Regions from separate parts of the Homo sapiens genome. Here regions 2 and 3 are each linked to region 1. Evidence: fine-mapped expression QTL. A gene starts in region 1. Each other region holds a variant in brackets. All regions are shown on one strand. Distances are between the middles of the regions.

What was found. PIP is the estimated chance that this variant, and not a neighbour inherited with it, causes the effect.
Region 2: its variant is the best candidate, but not a certain one, in a credible set for the expression of MAP4K3 in subcutaneous fat (GTEx, PIP 0.89).
Region 3: its variant is the best candidate, but not a certain one, in a credible set for the expression of MAP4K3 in subcutaneous fat (TwinsUK, PIP 0.63).

What each region holds. Positions count from the first base shown.
Region 1 is chr2:39,434,546-39,440,766 of GRCh38, reverse strand. MAP4K3 (mitogen-activated protein kinase kinase kinase kinase 3) reads left to right here and starts at 3,482. Exons shown (of 34, transcript NM_003618.4): 1 at 3,482-3,875. The coding sequence starts at 3,780. It overlaps MAP4K3-DT (MAP4K3 divergent transcript), which reads right to left and starts at 3,351. Exons shown (of 6, transcript NR_037875.1): 1 at 3,232-3,351. RefSeq lists silencers at 3,229-3,448, 3,519-3,878 and an enhancer at 4,209-4,288.
Region 2 is chr2:39,534,274-39,540,494 of GRCh38, reverse strand. All of the region lies in intron 5 of MAP4K3-DT (MAP4K3 divergent transcript), which reads right to left. Among named protein-coding and RNA genes, the nearest start is that of MAP4K3-DT, 100 kb to the right of the region's middle. The variant C/G (reference allele first, on the strand shown) is at 2,692.
Region 3 is chr2:39,525,447-39,531,667 of GRCh38, reverse strand. The region is part of intron 5 of MAP4K3-DT (MAP4K3 divergent transcript); the gene reads right to left. Among named protein-coding and RNA genes, the nearest start is that of MAP4K3-DT, 91 kb to the right of the region's middle. RefSeq lists an enhancer at 4,299-4,358. The variant C/T (reference allele first, on the strand shown) is at 3,800.

The DNA of each region.
Region 1 (6,221 bases):
GTCTGCCTATGCATTTTTCAAGGTTCAGCTTTAGGGTTATTCCTTTTTTTTTTTTTTTTTTTTTTTTTGAGACGGACGCTTCCTCTGTTGCCCAGGCTGGAGTGCAATGGTGCAGTCTCAGCTCACTGCAACCTCCACCTCCCGGCTCAAGTGATTCTCCTGCCTCAGCCTCCCGAGTAGCTGTGATTACAGGGGACGTGCCACCGCGCCCAGCTAATTTTTGTATTTTTAGTAGAGATGGGGTTTCACCATGTTGGCCAGGCTGGTCTTGAACTCCTGACCTCAGGTGATCCACCCGCCTCGGCCTCCCAAAGTGTTGGGATTACAGGCATGAGCCACTGCGCCCAGCCAAGGGGTCATTCCTAAATCTTCCTCCCGTCTGCATTAATGTCCCTTCTCTGTGCTTCTCACACTATTTATGAGACTGTCAACTCCTTGAGGGAAGGCATTGTGGCTTTTCTTTTCTGTATTCAATACCACCAGAATCTAATAATCATTGCCTCTAAATACATTACAGGGAGGTAGAGGTTGGCTTACCATAAGAGAAATTTTTTACAGTATATTGTATATAAGCAGAGTATAGACTAGTGGCTAAGAATCTAGCCTTGGTGTCATACTGCCTTTGTTCAAATTTCAGCCTTCTGTGTTACCTTGAGCAGTTTAATCTGTCTGTGCCTCATAAAATGGAGATAATATTACCTATGTCATTAGGTTGTTGTGCGAATTAAATGAAATAACACATGAAAAATACTTGGCTCCATTCCTGGTATCTTGTAAGCACTTAGCAATGTTAGAAATTACTACTTTTCTCCTAGTTATTATGATCATTTACTAGCACTGTATCACAACGAGGTGGGTTGTTTTGGGAAGCAATGAGTCACCTTTTATTGAAAGTATTCAAGCAGCAGCAAATCCAGCAGAGATGCTGTAGAAGCAGTTCCTGAGTTAAAAAGATTAGATGACTTCTAAGAATGCTTCTAATCATAGAAGAGGGAAGCTCTTTCTCTGATTCTAGGAAAGTGTGATCATTAGTGTTACTTCTAGCAAAACTGAGGATTGTTAGAACAGGGGGAAAAGGCACTGGAATTGGCCACATGCATATATTACAAAAAACAAAATATTTTCTTTGTGAGCAGTTGTTTTACTTATGTTGTAACCCACATGGCAAATCAGGCCCTTACATGGAAATTCATCTCTTCTCAAAAGGACTAGCTTGGCCCTGCCAAAATGGAACAGACAAAACTTTAAAGACTGTTCTAGCCCTACTGAAATGTCTTTTCCTTTTGAAAGCAGTCTATTAGTGATGCAAATGCAAAGTTATTTGGACAGACGATAATCTCAGCAAACAAAACACTGAAGTCATTAGAACTTTCTTGTGCAGCTTTCAGTCCTGAGAATTTGGCTTTCTGGCACTAAAAAGGCAGAGGCCGGGTGCAGTGGCTCATGCCTGTAATCCCACCACTTCAGGAGGCCGAGGCAGGCGGATCATCTGAGGTCGGGAGTTCAAGAGCAGCCTGACCAACAAGGAGAAATCCCATCTCTACTAAAAATACAAAAATTAGCTGGGTGTGGTGTTGCATGCCTGTGATCCCAGCTACTTGGGAGGCTGAGGCAGGAGAATCGCTAAGAACCCGGGAGGCAGAGGTTTCAGTGAGCTGAGATTGCACCCTTGCACTCAAGCCTGGACAACTAGAGCGAAACTCCTTCTCAAAAAAAAAAAAAAAAAAAAGGCAGAGGAAAAGAGCAGACCTGGCTTCCATTTGGGATAATTTGTCAGGTCTGCTTATCTGAATCCTTGGCTAATTATTCTTGCGCTTGGCCTAAACATGCCAAACAATTCTCCAAATGTGGACAAACTGAAGGAAGGCCTGTAATCTGGGTCCTGGGCAAGTACCTTAAACAAGCAAAAGCAAGACCTTTGGCTATGGAATAACATTTATAGTCAGGAGTTTCTCAAGATACCAGAGCCTGAAGGTAGATCCATCGAGAAGATATTCAATGATATGCACTCCTAAGGCAATAATTTAAGTGATACTTTCATATTACTGATGCTTTAAAATTTAATAATTAAAAATTACACAACTGAAAGGCTACTTATATAGGTGAAGAGATAACCATTTTCAAACATCAATTTAGTCAACAGATACTCAAAGTAAACAATTTGAGAATTTAGTACATATGCAATTTTCCTATGAGCAAAAGGATTCAAAAGATTTTTTGAAAAAGTATGAAGCAGTTAACTCTAAGTAGTTTGCTCTACTATTAATTTATTATACTTATCCTTAACAGGTTTGATGAGACCTAGTTTCTCAGGAGCCACGAGGTATTAGGGAATATTAGTGGTTAGAAGGTGTGGTGCCTAAGGGGATTAGGAAAGCATTTCTGAAGCAAAACTCCAACGTGGTATTGCCAAAGTGGCCATCACCTAATTGATTAAAGCTCCTGCAAATGTCTATTGGGAAGTTCAATGAGAACAGAAAAATAACCTTCCATTACCCTCAAGCTTTCTTGGGCAAGTATTAACAATCGGAGCTGGAGTCCACATAGCTCAGATGTAAGACGCGCAATCTGGGTCTTAAGCAGGGTGGGGTTTTTGGGTAGGTAAGGTCACAGCTAAAGAGCTTCCGGATCGTCACGTGTTTATATTTCAGGTGCGGTAATAGATCTAGTCCACTCTCCACCCCTTCTTTACAGGGTTGCTTGACAGCCTGCGCAGTCCCCGCCCGTCTTTGATAATCCAACCCTCTTCGAAGAGGGAGGTCAATCACTGCTTTAGTTCTGCGCTCTGCCTGCCTCCCACGCGGGATGGTGGGCAGCTGTTCCGCGTGTTTTCCTCCCGGAGCTTTCACGCTCTGCCCACTGCACACACCTCCCTCGCGGCCCTCCTGGCCTGCCCTCCTTTGCACCCTGGCAGGCCAACTCCAAGGGTCCGAGTGTCGGTGACAGGGGCAAGCAAGCACAGCTCACTTTTCCTGGGGGTTTTCCTCACGGTGTGTTTAGTGACCCCTCCCCGCAATCCCAGAAAGGCTGCAGCACTCCATGGTATCCTACATGTAGCTGCTTCTAAAATAATAAAGGCTGGGACATTGGCTGTCTTGGATATTACCACTATGCTACCTGCTTGGAACTGGGACCAGATAGACCAAGGTCCAACTTTGTCGTTAGGGGAATCAGAAACGAAAAGAAGCCACTTTCTGCTAGTCCTAACCCCGGTCCCTGGGCCAGGCAAACCTTTTCAAGCGTCCGGCGGCAGCGGCCGGGCGCGGGTCCGCAGAAAAGCCGAGGCGTTTCGGGTCCCAAGCTGTTCCGCCGCCGGCCCCGGCCTGGCAGGCGCGCGGAGCCGGAACGCGCAAGGGGTCGGGTGCGCGCCAGGCCTGGCGCGCTCCCTCCGGGATCGCGGCTGCGCAGTCGGGCGGGAGTCGGGAAAAGGGGAGGAGGTTGGAGGAGCCGGAGTAAGGGGAGGGGGAGGAGCGGCGAAAGCGGAAGCCATGTTGGAGTTTCACCCCGAGCGAGGGGCTGCGAGGGTTCTCCTCTCCTTGTGGGTGTGACCAGGTTCGGCGCGGCGGCGGGCCGCGGGGGGCGGGGACGATTGGCCGCTTGTCGTCGTCCGCAGCGGCGTGAGGGGAGCGGCGGCGGCGGCGGCGGCCGCAGCGTGGAGCCGGGTGATTGTGACCGCCGGGGGAGCCGGGAGCCGGCCGCGGCGCCCTCTCTCCGTGTGGCCCCCTGAGCGGCCCCCCTCCCCTGCCCGGGAGGGAGGCGGGGGGCACCTGGGGCCCGCCATGAACCCCGGCTTCGATTTGTCCCGCCGGAACCCGCAGGAGGACTTCGAGCTGATTCAGCGCATCGGCAGCGGCACCTACGGCGACGTCTACAAGGTAAAGGCAGGGGCCGCGCGCCGCCGAGGCCGTGGGATCCCGACCCGCAGCCAAGCCTGGGCGTCCGAGCCCTTGCCGCCTGTCCTCGGGAGACGCTGGCGCCAGGGAGCAGTCGGGGAGGAGGAGCTGCGGACGCCAAGGGCTCTGCTGCCTTGGTGAACAAAGGGCCGAATGTTTAACCCCGAGACCTCCCCAGCCCTTACCTGAGCCCCCCCGGTGGACATGATTTTTGCCACCTCCCTTCTTGCGCGCATTTCCAGGGAAGGGCAGAACGAGAGCAGGCCACACTGCTCATCCATAGTGCAGAGAAGGTCTGGGCGTTTGTTGCGTTGGCAGGGTCAGCGCGACGAACCGGACAGCAGGGGTCTGGTGTTGTCAAACCTGCCTGCTTCACGCCAACCTGGGGTCGTCCGCTCTAGGTTGGGAGCTGCTGCCCACCAGGCCTCGGTGGTAGTTATTATACTATGCTGAGCGACCTCCATCTTCCATCGACAGCTCTCAGCCTTTAGCGCCTTATTCATCCCCCTGTCAGTTTCTTTTAATTTTCCAGAGTAATGACTTTTTTTTTTTTTTGGAAAGAGCAACTTTGTTTTCTCTAAGTCGAATTGGACTGCGATGCCATTTAAACTTGTTTTTTAAAAAGTGACTTGAATACTTAGGGAAGGTACTGGTTTGACAAGGTTAGAATTCAAAGTCCAGTAGCGGTACAGCATTCCTGTTGTAGAGGGACCACTTCTAAATGTGGGAAGATAAATCACTCTTCCCTGGCCAACTCAACTCTTGGCCTCACAGTTACTGCCAAGAAGAGAGGAGGTTGTTGCCAAATGTGGCAGCAGTCTTGATTTAGTTGTGTATCTTCTTACTGGTAACTGAAGTTGAACTCCTCCAGTTTCACATAACACCTGAGGATGCACAAAGAAACTTAATTTTGCATTGGAAAGTTCAGTCTTAACTTTATTTTGCCCATGTTTAAGCAGGTTTTTACTCTTCAGTGTAATGCCTGTGGTAACTTACATATTTAATACAGTGCAGCCAGTGTTCTGCTTTAGTCTGATTTTCTGGATGATCTACTTTTCACCATCGTGGATCTCATCACTTTTCCTACTATGCAATATAGATATATTGAGCCCACCTACAATGTATGAGATACTTGGCAAGTAAGCACTTTGGGTTGTAGCAGTAAACGATAGACTTGGTTCCAAATCTTCCTAAGTGTTTCTATTTTTTTGGACAAGGACAGTATTAAATAGCCATTTAAATAATTATTGCCGTTTAATTTTGTGATGCAGAAAAGAGTATTAGGATCAGGGTTATGAGAGCATGTAATAGGAGGACCTGATCCTGTTTAGGGTATCAGACGCTCATCGCCTTTCAGCTGAGATCTCAGAGATGATTAGGCGTTGCTTAGGGTACTGGGGAGAGGGGATTACGCCAGATAGGGGAGCATGATATGTGAAGGCTCTGAGGCCCGATGTGAAAGAAGGCCTGTATAGCCTGAGCAGCCAGAGCGGGAGGGTGGCCCTAGATCTTGCAGGCCTCTTAGTTCTCATTAGGAGATCGGACTTGTTTAGGACAATGGGGAACTATTGCAGGCTTTTAAGCAGAGGAGTGACATTAGATTTAGGTTTTTAAAAGAGCTCCCTACTACAGCATGAAGAGTGGAATGGAGCAGTTGGGAGGCCACTGTGATAGTCTAGGTAAGAATAATGGTGTTAAGGAATATGGTGATGACTGTGAAAGTAGAAGTGGATGGATGCAAGTCACTTATGACTGGTTGGGGGAGTTCGCTTATATTGCGATGAAAAGTTAACTAAAACTCGATGAATGTATACGTTTTAGGTGGCAGGGTATACAGTGAATTTTTTTACAGGACTAATTGGCTGTGTACTTGCTATATTAAAAAGAACAGTTAGTAGTTAAGCCACATGATTAAAAAGCAAAAAAAAATTAGGGCCTGTAATTTCCTAAGTGTAATAGAGGTATACTAAGTTGGTTAATCTTGTCATTCGTTTAAAATAATGATAATACTAGCTGATGTTTATGGAATGCTTGTTACTTGCCAGGCACTATAAGATTTTTCTAATTAATCCTAACAGCAACCCTGTGAGATAGGTGCTATTGTTAACTCCATTTTGCAGTTGAATAAACTGAGGCACAAGGAGATTAACTTGCCAAAGTTGGTAGGTGGCAAAGCCAAAATTTGAACCAATTAGGGACTGTATTCTTAACCAATTGGCAGTGCTGCCTCTCTAAAGATAGGAGATGGGCAGATAATGTATTACATTTCCAGTGGAGAAACTGAGGCACACATTTAGTTTAGCATTTGAGTTGTAGCCACACTCTGAG
Region 2 (6,221 bases), 100 kb before region 1:
GAGATTTGAGTTCTTCCAGCTTTTATTGTCACCATTAAAAATATTAATGGTCCAACAATGCAAAAGCCCAACTAGAGTTTCCTTGAAATGCCTTACCACGGTGGAGGCACACTGTGTGTGAAGCATCATTAAACTCCGCTGCCTGCCCATGGACCAAGCAAGGGGAAAGAGCAATAGATCCTTCTTGTAAAACCAAGGGTATATTCAAAGTCACCCTCATTAGCCTGAGCTTTTCACCCATATTACAATCATGGCTCTGTTAATAAGAGGACCCCATCACAGTAGCACTCTGGTGTCAGCATCTTCATTACCAGAAGTAGACATTGTATCTGAGATGTCAAGGTATGTTTCAATGCTGGATTTTTCTTGCAGGAGAGCCTTGGTGAATCACTCTTTTTTCTCTCTCCATCCCCTTGCCTTGCATATTTTGCAATTACAAATGTGCTTCCACATTTATGATGAGAGCTACCAAGGGCTGGATTCAGAAGTACCATTCTGCTCCAGAATGCTGGGCTATGTGGGCTCCAAGTGTGACCCTGCTCTGGGGAGGCTGGAAGCCAAGGAGCACCTCCAGGAACAAATTGTAATAAGACATGGCCAGTTATTCATCCTCCTGACCAAGACCATGTGCTGAGAGGATCAGAGCTGCTGCCTGAACCCCAGTAGTCAAAACAAAAGAGGATTGCTATTGAAGGTATCTATTGGTATAGCAACACTAAGCCAGATTTAGAGCACAAGTCTTCCAAATCAACATTTGAGCTGTCCACTATGAGAAGCTTGGGGCTATACCATTAAATTCTAATTTTAATCATTCATCCTGAGATGTTTGATATTTTGATATCAAAAAGCCTTCAAAGGTTGATCCTGGATGGCATCTGCCTGAATCTTACCTGACAACAGCATGCAAAGGAAGGACACCTGTATCCTAACCCCAGTTCCAGCCATAACTGGCCATCTGACAAAGCTATAGGACCTCTCTCAGCCTTCTCAGTTTCCTTATCAGAGCAAAGGTGATACTTCCTACTAAGGCAAGTACTTCAACAATGACATTAGGTAATACAGGCAAAGACACACGGGAAAAAGTAAAGCACTGTGGTCATGAGGGAGACAATTGTGTTTTTTTTTTTTCTTCCTTTGCTTGTGCTATTATCCTGCCATGTGAAAACTTGAGGACTCTGGTTAGTCAGAGCCAATGTCAGAAGATTTTAATCATCCCCAGTGTCCATTTATAAGAATTTCCTGAAGTCTTGGTGTATGTTATGGTTTGGATGTGCTTTGTCCCTGCTGAAACTCATGGTGAAGTTTGATCCCCAATGTGGCAATGTTGTGAGGTGGAACCTAGAGGGAGTCGTGGGTCATGGGGGGTGGATCCCTTATGAATAGATTAATGCCCTTCCACAGGGGTGAATGAGTTCTCATTCTTGTGTGAATGGATTAGTTTCCTCCAGGACAGGCTGTTAAAAAAGAGTCTGGCTTCTTCAGTTTTCCCCTCTTGCTTCCTCTCTTGCCATGTGATCTCTTTGCACATGCCTGCTCCCCTTTCATTGTCTGCTATGAGTCAAAGCAGCATGAGAACCTCACCAGATGCAGCTGCCCCACCTTGGACTTTTTGGCCACCAGAATCATGAGCCAAATAAACCTCTTTTTTTTTTTTTTAACAAATTACCCAGTCACAGCTAACACAAAAATGGACTAAGACAGTGTATTCTCTTTCTAATATCAATAATACATACCTCTACAGGGGATATGGATATATGTCCTTTTTATTTATTTTTTATTTTTTGAGACAGAGTCTTGCTCTGTTGCCTAGACTGGAATGCAATGGCACAATCTCGGCTCACTGCAGCCTCCACCTCCCAGGTTCCAGTGATTCTCCTGCCTCAGCCTCCCGAGTAGCTGGGATTATAGGTGCCCACCACCAGGTGTGGCTAATTTTTGAATTTTTAGTAGAGACGGGGTTTTGCCATGTTGGTCAGGCTGACCTCGAACTCCTGACCTCAGGTGATCTGCTGACCTCGGCCTCCCAAAGTGCTGGGATTACAGGCATGGGCCACCATGCCCAGCCATGTGTGTGTTCTTACCCAAGCCTTTCAATGACACAGGAACCAGTTTCAAAGAATTTTTTTAATGTATTTCCTGTTAAGGATGGCTTCTTCTCGGACCTTCTCTCCAGTATCAACCTAAAATCAAAGGTTACCACGCAGCCTGCAGGGTAACCTGGACTTTTATGTAAACCTGTCTTGTGATGTTGTGAGATGCAAATGGATAAAAATTACTGAGATGGCAACTGTTTGAAAAGCAGCCTGCCCTTGGAGCAGAGGCCTCCATTACTCAGCCTAAACAGTCATCATGGCCTCTATTTGTTAAAAACAAAATAAAACCATGTTAAATCAAGTTCAGCCTAAAGCTCTCTGCTTACATATTTTAAGTTCAGCCTAAAGGTTTTTCTGTACATTGTGAACTATAACAAGTGGAGGTGTAACCAGACCATAGCCTACACTTGTGCCAGTCACCAAGTTTTGGCCAATCCAATGTAGCTAACAGTTCAACCATGTACAAATAAGGCAAATGCCGAGCTGTAACCAATGCAGCTGTTTCCATACCTCACTTCCATTTTCTGTACATCACTTTCCTTTTTCTGTTCATAAATCTTGTTCCACCACGTGGCTGCGCTGCGCCCCTGAGCCTACC[C/G]TGGCTCAGGAGGCTGCCCGATTCGCGAATTGTTCATTGCTCAATTAAACTCCTTTAAATTTAACTTGGTTGAAGTTTTTCTTGGTTTTTTTTTTTTTTTTTTTTGAGACGAAGTCTCACTGTCGCCCAGGCTGGAGTGCAGTGGCGCGATTACAGCTCACTGCAACCTCTGCCTCCCAGGTTCAAGCAATTCTCCTGCCTCAGCGTCCCGAGTAGCTGGGATTACTGGCATGTGCCATCACACACAGTTAATTTTTGTATTTTTAGTAGCGATGGGGTTTTGCCATGTTGCCCAGGCTGGTCTCAAACTCCTGGCTTAAGGGATCCACCTGCCTTGGCCTCCCAGTGTGCTAGGATTACAGGCAAGAGCCACTGTGCCCAGCTAAGTTTTTCTTTTATCAACCAAAAAACCCCGAGTGACTCAGAAAGTAACTTGCACTAGGAAAAAAGAAAGAGAAAGAGATAGAGATAGAGAGGTGGATTAAAGAGACTTAAAGTCATGTTGATATGTACTCTGTACCCCCAGATACAAGGCCATGAGAAGGAAACTTTATTCTATGCGAAGAATCAGTGGTATTCTTCCCCAAAACCCATAACCTTAGTCTAATCATAAGAGAACATCAGACAAATCCAAATTGAGAGACTTTCTACAAAATATCTGACCAGAACTCTTCAAAATTGTCAAGCTCATGAAAAACAAGACTGACTAATGCACAAATCAGAGGAGTCTAAGGAATCATAATGACTATTAATAAATGTATTGTGGTCTCCTGAATTGGAAAAAAAGTGGCATCAAGGGAAAAACTAGTGAAATCTGAATAAAGCCTATAGGTTAGTTAATAGTAATGTACCAATGATTACCTCAGTTTTGACAAGTATGCAGTAATTATGTAAGATGCTAATATAAGGGGGACTGGGTGAAAAGTACACAGGAACTCTCTGTACTGTGTCTGCAACTTTTCTGTAAATCTATGATTATTCCAAAATAAACAGTTTATTTTGAAAAGGGGCAAAGAAAGACTTAATAAACATATCAAATAGTCATATTGTAGGACTTTACTTGAATCATGATGAAACTATTTTAAAAATTTGTTTATGAGACAACTGAAAATTTAAATACAGTATATTTGATTATATTAAGAAATTAATTATTAACTACTTTTAAGCGTATTTGTGATATTGTTACATTTTTAAAAAGAAGTGTTTAATTTTTAGAAAAACAAACTAAAATATTTACAGATTAAATGATATGATGTCTTGAATTTGCTTCAAAAATAATACAGGAGGGAGAAATTAGTAGGGATATAGGTTAACAAGATGTCAGAAAATAATTACGGAAAATGAGTGATGGCATGATAGTTTGGTTGTGTTTTGTTTTTGAGATGGAGTCTCGCTCTATCGCCCAGGCTGGAGTGCAGTGGCGCGATCTTGGCTCACTGCTACCTTTGCCTCCCGGGTTCAAGCGATTCTCATGCCTCAGCCTCCTGAGTAAGCTGGGATTACAGGCATGCACCACCATGCCAGGCCAATATTTGTATTTTTAGTACAGATCGGGTTTCATCATGTTGGCCAGGCTGGTCTTGAACTCCTGACCTCAGGTGATCCACCTGCCTCAGCCTCCCAAAGTGCTGGGATTACAGGCGTGAGGCACCGCATCTGGGGAGAGTTCATTATTTTTATTTTGTCTTGTTTTGTATATGTTTGAAGTTTTCCAGAATTAAAAAAACTAATTTTAAGAATCCAAAGAAGAAAAACCATAAGCCCCTAACATTTCGATCACATAGCATTATCTTTGCTGCTGTATTTGCCACCTCAGCAACTCTCCAATTATTGTCATTCAGTTTGCCACTCTTACCAAACCACAGATGAGCTCTGGAGCCGAAGTCCTCTCTAGATCTGTCCACTCACATGAGCCTCTGGAACTTATCAAGCATATGAAAACATCGTCATTCACCTGGAAAATTAACGCCAGGAAGCAGAAGGGGTTTTTGCCTACTCTGCTGGCTACAGGGGTCATCTAGGCCCAACAGCAAGGAAATAAGGGTGTCTGTGCAAGCCTCAGGGCAGCCCCATCCTTCATCCAACTGTAAGAGCAGAAAGGTCCCTCCTCTCTCTCTTGGAGATGGTTTAGACACTTTAGTTCCTTTCAACCTCGAAGCAAATTGGATCTGAATGCAGATGAGCAAGAATAGAATAGAGACAAGTCAAGACTTAAGTTTAATGCAAACCTTTTTTCCCCCCAGTGCAGAAGTCTTATTAAAGAAACAGCATGATGCTGACAGGATAGTGTTTGTAAGTAGAAATAACACTTATTATAACAAGTTAGAACAGCAGGCAGATAGGTTTGTTTGTTTGTTAATTATATCTGGTTTTATTTTCTAATGAGTGCCTTAAGAAAGGGGGGAATCATTCTGACAGCTGTTTGAAACTAACTTTTAAGTCCTCTTAGTAAAATGATGTGGAGCCATCCGGTTCTATGAAGCAACAAGAGGTTCCCCCACCCACCATTTTGTCCATCGGATCCATGAAGATTAACGATTTATAATCCCATGAATGGGATCTAAATTCCTGCTTTAATAGATACAGAAAGTTTTTCGCTTACCCGTGGGGAAGGTACTGATAGAGACATGCATAGAATGCATATGTAATTTGTCCACATTTATAGAATGTAATCTACAGCTCTTCTCTAAGTATCATATTCCCAGAAAGACAAAACATATTTGTCTTTAGAGGAAAGTGTTAACTTTATCCAGACTAACTTTGACTAAATGCCTACACAGCCATGAATCAGAAAAGACATACAACTTTTAAAACAAGGATTGAGAGAAGAAAGGAAAAACAAACCTGTCTGGGAAACGGGGTTGGGAGTGAATTAACTGGCAATAGTGTTTTTAAATTGCCCTAGAGGTAAATTAAGCCTCCTACTTTTTTGTCAGAAATGAGTAATTACTAGAAGGAGGCAGCGTAGTCCACATCTTGGCATTTTTACCCAGAATTAAATCTGCACATTATACATTCACACTCTATGTTTAAAAAAATGAGACACTTTTTAGTGAAACTATAAACACCTGCACAGCCAAACAAGGATTCTTGAGAGATCACATCTACGCAGACAGAGTGGTCTGAATTATTTAGACCACAGCAAAAATATGTGTGACAGATGAAACAGAATCATTAAGAGAAAAAGCAGAGTTTGTTGAACAGATAATCCCAGAGGGATTGCCCTCCTTCTTTTTCCCTAGGCAGGTCCCTTCTCTCAGATTACCTTCAAAACTGTGTTTAGAACAATGCCTCTCGCAGGAAGCCCTCCTTGGTTAACTGACATGATCCTGTCATTCGGCTCCTCTTTGCCATAGCAAGTGCATCTGTATTTTGCATTTGGTCCTAAGCAGCTTGTTTTATATCATTATTGAAGTCTATCTATGCCTTTGTATCTTTATTTCATCTACCCTCTACTGTGGCTTTCATTTGCTGGGTGTGTCTCCAGAGTGCTTACTGTCAGAACAAAGAACTCTCAGGAATGTTGCCTG
Region 3 (6,221 bases), 91 kb before region 1:
GGCCTGAGAGAGCTGCCATCCCCCTTCCACCATGTGAGGACACAGTGAAAAAGCGCCATCTATGAACCAAAGGTGAACCCTCACCAGACACCGACTCTCCTGGCACCAAGGAAGGGCTTGGACTTCCCAGCCTCCAGAACTGTGACAGATAAGTTTCAGTTGTTTATAAGCCATCCAGTCTATGGTATTTTGTTATAGCAGCACCAACAGACTAAGACACACACACTCCACACTGTTGCAGTCCCCTTGGTGGAGATGGAGTGAGCCCATCATATCACCTGCAGTTGGTTCCAGCTCAAGTTTGGGAGTCAGCATTGAGTCTATGAATGTGTAGTGAGAACCCATTTCACAGAAGGCTCGGGCTAGTTTAATGGAGATACAGAGGTGAACAAGCTGAGGTTCTGGCCTTCACACAGCTCCAATCCAAGGAAGGGAAGAACACATAAAGTATAACTGAAGCCTCACCAGGGAGCCACCTGCCCTGCCTCTGACAGCTGAGTGAGAGGAGGACTCTCAGAGAAGATGAGTAAATAGAATTCTTTTTCAGCTATTGATTGAGGATATTGAAAAATGAAAAAATATCAATCACGGAAGCAGTCCTTCATCGGCAGGAGTGCATCAGAGAATTGCGAGGTGAGAATGTGGCTTAGCGTGGAGGCTCTGGTTTTTACTCATTTGCAGGCTGCCTGGCCAAGATCTTCCCAGTCCTGTTTGCTCAAGGTGACATTCACAAAAGATAATGCTAGCCTACTTTTTCTAAAAATAAAGAAATAGTATAATTTCACCTTGCTTTAAGCAACCCTGATCTTTAAAATCCAAGCAAACAGATAAATCAGTAAAGAATTCTTCACTTTATAAAATGTCTCACCACAAGATGGCCTTAAAAGTAAACTCCCAGATTAGTACATTTTAGGTGGAATTTGACTTACAAAAAAAGTGGTTTATATGCATCATTGAAGCAGCACATCTACTATGTAAAGTCAGATATCCTTGTAGTTGATCCAAAGTCATAAATAAAATAAGCAGTCATCCTTCACCAGCATTATTCAATTGAGAAATCTGGAAAGGCAATCTAAACAACAATCTTCCTGTCAGTGGCTATATTATTAGACTGCAGCTTTTCAGTTTCCTGTATGTTGACAGGAAGCTGATCTCCTGAAGGAGAAAGAATACCCACGGGATCATTTCTTCAGCCCCATTAAATGTGAGTCAGGGCCAGTATGTCTGCACATAGCTATTTCAACTGCAGTGAAGAGTTGAAGTAACAGATTGGTATGATTTCCAGGAAAGTTCTAGAATGAAGTATTAATATTTAGATAATGATTTGTGAACACTTAGAAATTAAGAAGTGATTATTCAGAGTTAGTGTAAGCTAACTAAGAAAACGATATCCTATTTTTAAAAAGACTTACTATACCAGTAAAGTTGAGAAATTCCATAGATGAAACATACCCAATTTTGGTGACATATTTCATTAAGTCATGAAATCATCATAGAAAAGGTGAAAAAAATATATATGTGCTCAGTGAAAATGCAGTTATACAGATTTGTATTTTCTTCAGTGGCCAAATTAATGGCTGACGAATAGACCCATGTGAACCTACAGGGAGGTTCCTAGTATGTGTCACAGGGCTTAGCATTTTAGCAATGCCTGGGGGAAAGGTTTGAAAAGCCCTGTTATCAAGATCACATAGTATCTTGGAAGCTGGAAGGCTAACATTAGAAAGCAGAATCTGGATTAGAAAAGTTTTCAGTAAGACAGAAGAATCAAAACAAACAAATAAATATAATTTAAAAGGGATAAGTGTAAAATTTTACATTAAGAATTTTATGGTTGGTCACAGTGGTGCACACCTGTAAATCCAGCACTTTGGGAGGCCGAGGAAGGCAGATCACTTGAGGCAAAGAGTTCGAGACCAGCCTGGCCAACATTGCAAAACCCCATCTCTATTAAAAATACAAAAATTAGCCAGGCATAGTGGTGCACGCCTGTAGTCCCAGTTACTCAGGAGGCAGGAGAATTGCATGAACCTGGGGGATGAAGGTTGCAGTGAGCCAAGATTGCACCACTGCACTCCAGCCTGTAAGACTGTAAGACCCTGTCTATAAGACTCTGTCTTTGTATCAGGATGTATAAACCAAATCCATGATTTAAAGACCACTCAGCCTGTAAGACTCTGTCTCAAACAAAAAGACAGAGAGAGAGAATTTTATATAGAGACAAAATCTGGCTTGATGGAAGGTCATCTGACAGAGAACTAGGTGTTTTGGTAGGCCACAGATTTTATATGGGCCATTAATGAAATATGAATGTTAAAAATTATAACAAAAAGCTAATAGACTCTTGGCAGTTAATACTTATTTTCTCCCAGTTTATCAAGGGTTCTTATCTTCTTTATACTTTTCTGGATTTTCCAAATTTTCACATATGTTATTTTTATGAACAGAAAAACTACTCTTAGAATTTGAAAGTATTTTAATAACTGTCCTATTTTAATAACTGTCCTATGGACATTGGAGCAGGCTATTTCATATAGTTTTAGAGGCTGAAACTAGGGAAAACGGCTTGAAGTTATAGGAGACAATTTTAGCCTAAGTACTCAGCTCACCATCGAGTGGGTTCCCATCCCTGGAAGTGTTTACATAACCGTTGGCTAACTACAGAAGTGGCATATCATAGCATAGCATAGCATAGCATAGCATAGCATAGCATAGCACAGCACAGCACAGCACAGCACAGCACAGCACAGCACAGCACAGCACAGCACAGCATAGCATAGCATAGCAGTGAAAATCTCTGGCTCTGCCAAACTGCCTGGGCTTGCACCTTGGCTATGCTACTGACTTAGACGAGGCATGGTCTTAGATGAGGCATTCCACTATTTCGTCAGCTATAAAAAGGGCATGATAGTAACTGTATTTGTCCATATGGTCGCTAAGGATTAAAAGGATTCATCTGTATCAATATCCTTAAGACAATAACTGGACTATGCTCAATAAACATTATTATCATCTGTCAGAAGTGGTACATAAAGAATCTCTGCCTTGCTTGAGAAACTAGACTAAATGATTACCAAAAGTTACCTCCAATTTCATTATCTTATTGTTCTAAGTCAAGGAGCACCCTTCCTCAGGTGGCACTGTCTTATTACCTAAGCCTGTACTCCTGAATAGAACCCTGATAATAACAAAATTATTGCAGGAGAGCAAAATATATTACAAAGGAAGTGTCCAAAAGCTACTCAGCATCTCATACATTTCATTACCCAGAATAGGAAGCAGGCCCAGTGGTGGCACTGGACATATAAACCAAATCCATGATTTGGCCAGGTGCGGTGGCTCACGCCTGTAATCCCAGCACTTTGGGAGGCTAAGGCGGGCAGATTACGAGGTCAGGAGATCAAGACCATCCTGGCTAACATGGTGAAACCCCATCTCTACTAAAAATACAAAAAATTAGCCGGGCATGGTGGCGGGTGCCTGTAGTCCCAGCTACTCGGGAGGCTGAGGCAGGAGAATCGCTTGAACCTGGGAGGCGGAGGTCGCAGTGAGCTGAGATCGCACCACTGCACTCCAGCCTGGGCGATAGAGAAAGACTCTGACTCAAGAAAAAAAAAAAAATCCATGATTTGAAGTCCCAAGGCCTGGACAAAGGGTAGGGTGAAGAAGAAGAAGAAGGAGCCAAAGGAATACAGAAAACAAACGTCTGTACTTATTGATGTATTTATTTGTTCATTCATTCAACAAATGCATTTACTGAGCACTTACTATGCACTAGGCACTGTACTGGTTCTAAGCC[C/T]CGGAAACCAGGCACAGTTCCTGCCCTAATGGAGTCATATTCAGTGGGAAATATATTTCAACCAAAAAATGACACCAAGAAACATAAAATGACAGTTGTGATCAGCACCTGAAGGAGAAGTACCCAGGGCCATATGGTAGAGAGTTGCCCTGGTCAGAGAGGTCAAGAAAGACAGCCCTGAGGAAGCCATAACTGAGCTGAGATTTGAAGAAAGGGTGAAACTTACAGAAGTAAGTGCATTCTGGACAAAGAGCAGTTGGTGAGAGGAAGCGTGGCAGGTAAAAAGAACTGAAAGAGGCCGAGCGCGGTGGCTCACGCCTGTAATCCCAGCACTTTGGGAGGCTGAGGCAGGTGGATCACAAGGTCAGGAGATTGAGACCATCCTGGTTAACACAGTGAAACCCTGTCTCTACTAAAAATACAAAAAATTAGCTGGGCGTGGTGGCAGGCGCCTGTAGTCCCAGTTACTGCAGAGGCTGAGGCGGGAGAATGGCGTGAACCCGGGAGGCGGAGCTTGCAGTGAGCAGAGATCGCACCACTGCACTCCAGCCTGGGTGACAGAGCGAGACTCCATCTCAAAAAAAAAAAAAAAAGAAGTGAAAGAAGGCCACAGTGGTTGGAGTAAAGAGAGCAAAGCAGAGCATGGTTTGATCTAAAGCTGGCTAGGTACAGGGCCTATGGTCATGTTAAGGAATGTTGCATCCTAAAATCATGGGAGGGCATGCAAACATTTTAAACATCTCAGGGAAGACATGAAAATCAGATGAAGAACTCACTCAGCATACATTGTGGGAGGTGGAGGTCAAAACAGTGGCAGATAGACCAATAAAGAGGCTTTTAAGGTTATCCAGGAAGAGGTGAAGGTAGCTTAGACTAGGATAGTGGGAGTGGAAGTAGGGAAAAAAGTACAGATTCAAAGAGGTTTAGGAAGCAAAATTGAATGTGAAGGGTAAGGCAGAGGGAAAGGTCATGGTGACTCCAAGTTCTGGCCTGCTTAACAATGCGGGTGACATAGGGAACAGCAAAAGGTTTTGGATTAATCAAGAGTTTGGTTTTGGCTATGTTGTGTTTTAGATGCATGTGAAACTTCCAGATGAAAGTATTAGGTAGGAAATTGGATACATGGATCTAAAGCTCAAAGAAGAGACCTGGGCTGGAGAAACATTTTTGCCATGAACGAAGTATAGAATAAGAAAAGAAGACGGCCAAGTGCAGTGGCTCACACCTATAATCCCAGCACTTTGGGAGGCTGAGGTGGGCAGATCACTTGAGGTCAGGAGTTTGAGAACAGCCTAGCCAACATGGTGAAACCCCATCTCTACTAAAAATATAAAAATTAGCCAGGCGTGGTGGCATGCACCTGTAATCCCAGCTACTCAGGAGGATGAGGCAGGAGAATCGCTTGAACCCAGGAGGCAGAGATTGCAGTGAGCCTGCACTCCAGCCTGGGTGACAGAGCCAGACTCCATATCAAAACAAACAAACAAAAAAAGACAAGACTATCTAGGACTGGGCCTTGAGTATTTTAATATGTATTGACCCGGGGAGCATAGGATAAGACTGCAAAAGAGATAGAAAATGAGCAGTCAGAGAAGATGAAGGTAAACAAAAGAGCCTTGCGTCACTGAAGACAAAAAAATACAGTGTTTCGAGGAGGAGGGACAGTCAACAGTGTTGACCACTGCTGAGATGTGAAGGAAGGTGAGTGACCCTGGCACAAGCTGTTTGTCGAGCTCATGAGGTAGGAGCCAGCCTGGCAGTGACCTAAGGAGTGAGCAGGAAGTAAAAAGAGTCAACAAGTATAGATGTTCTCTCTAGAAGTCTCTGTAAAGGGGAGAAGAGAATATGAAAGCTTGAGGGGAAGGTATGCTTGGGGTAGAGTTATCTCCACTCCCCCACCCCACCCGCCAGTGGGAGCCTTGTGTACACTTTAAATCTGGCAAACAGAATCCAGTTGAGGAGCAGAGATTAAACATGAAAACATAATGAGAGAGTGAGAGTGCAGTACATGGGCAAGGAACTGAAAAAGAATAGATGACAAAGGGGACTAGCCTTTTGGCTAGGGACATGAGGCAGGTAGAATTGCCTGGTCAAAAGGTGGTCACAAATGGTGAGAACTGTGTTGACATTATGCAAATACTGATGGAGAGTGAAGCAGTTGGGGTCAAAGACTCCGTGGTGCTCCCCAGGTTTAGGGTTCCGAGTGAAGTATTTGTGAGAAGTTGGTAAGGTATCACTAAAGAAATCCCAGCTCGGATATCTCAGAGATAAGGTCTCTGCCCAAAATAGAAATTGCAGCAGCCCCATGTGATTTCCCACAGACCTCTTCTGAGTTGAAATCCAGACCAGCCACTCTCTGAGGAAATGATATGAACCATGTTTCCTTATTCAAGGACACAAAATAACTTCCCCACACCATTCT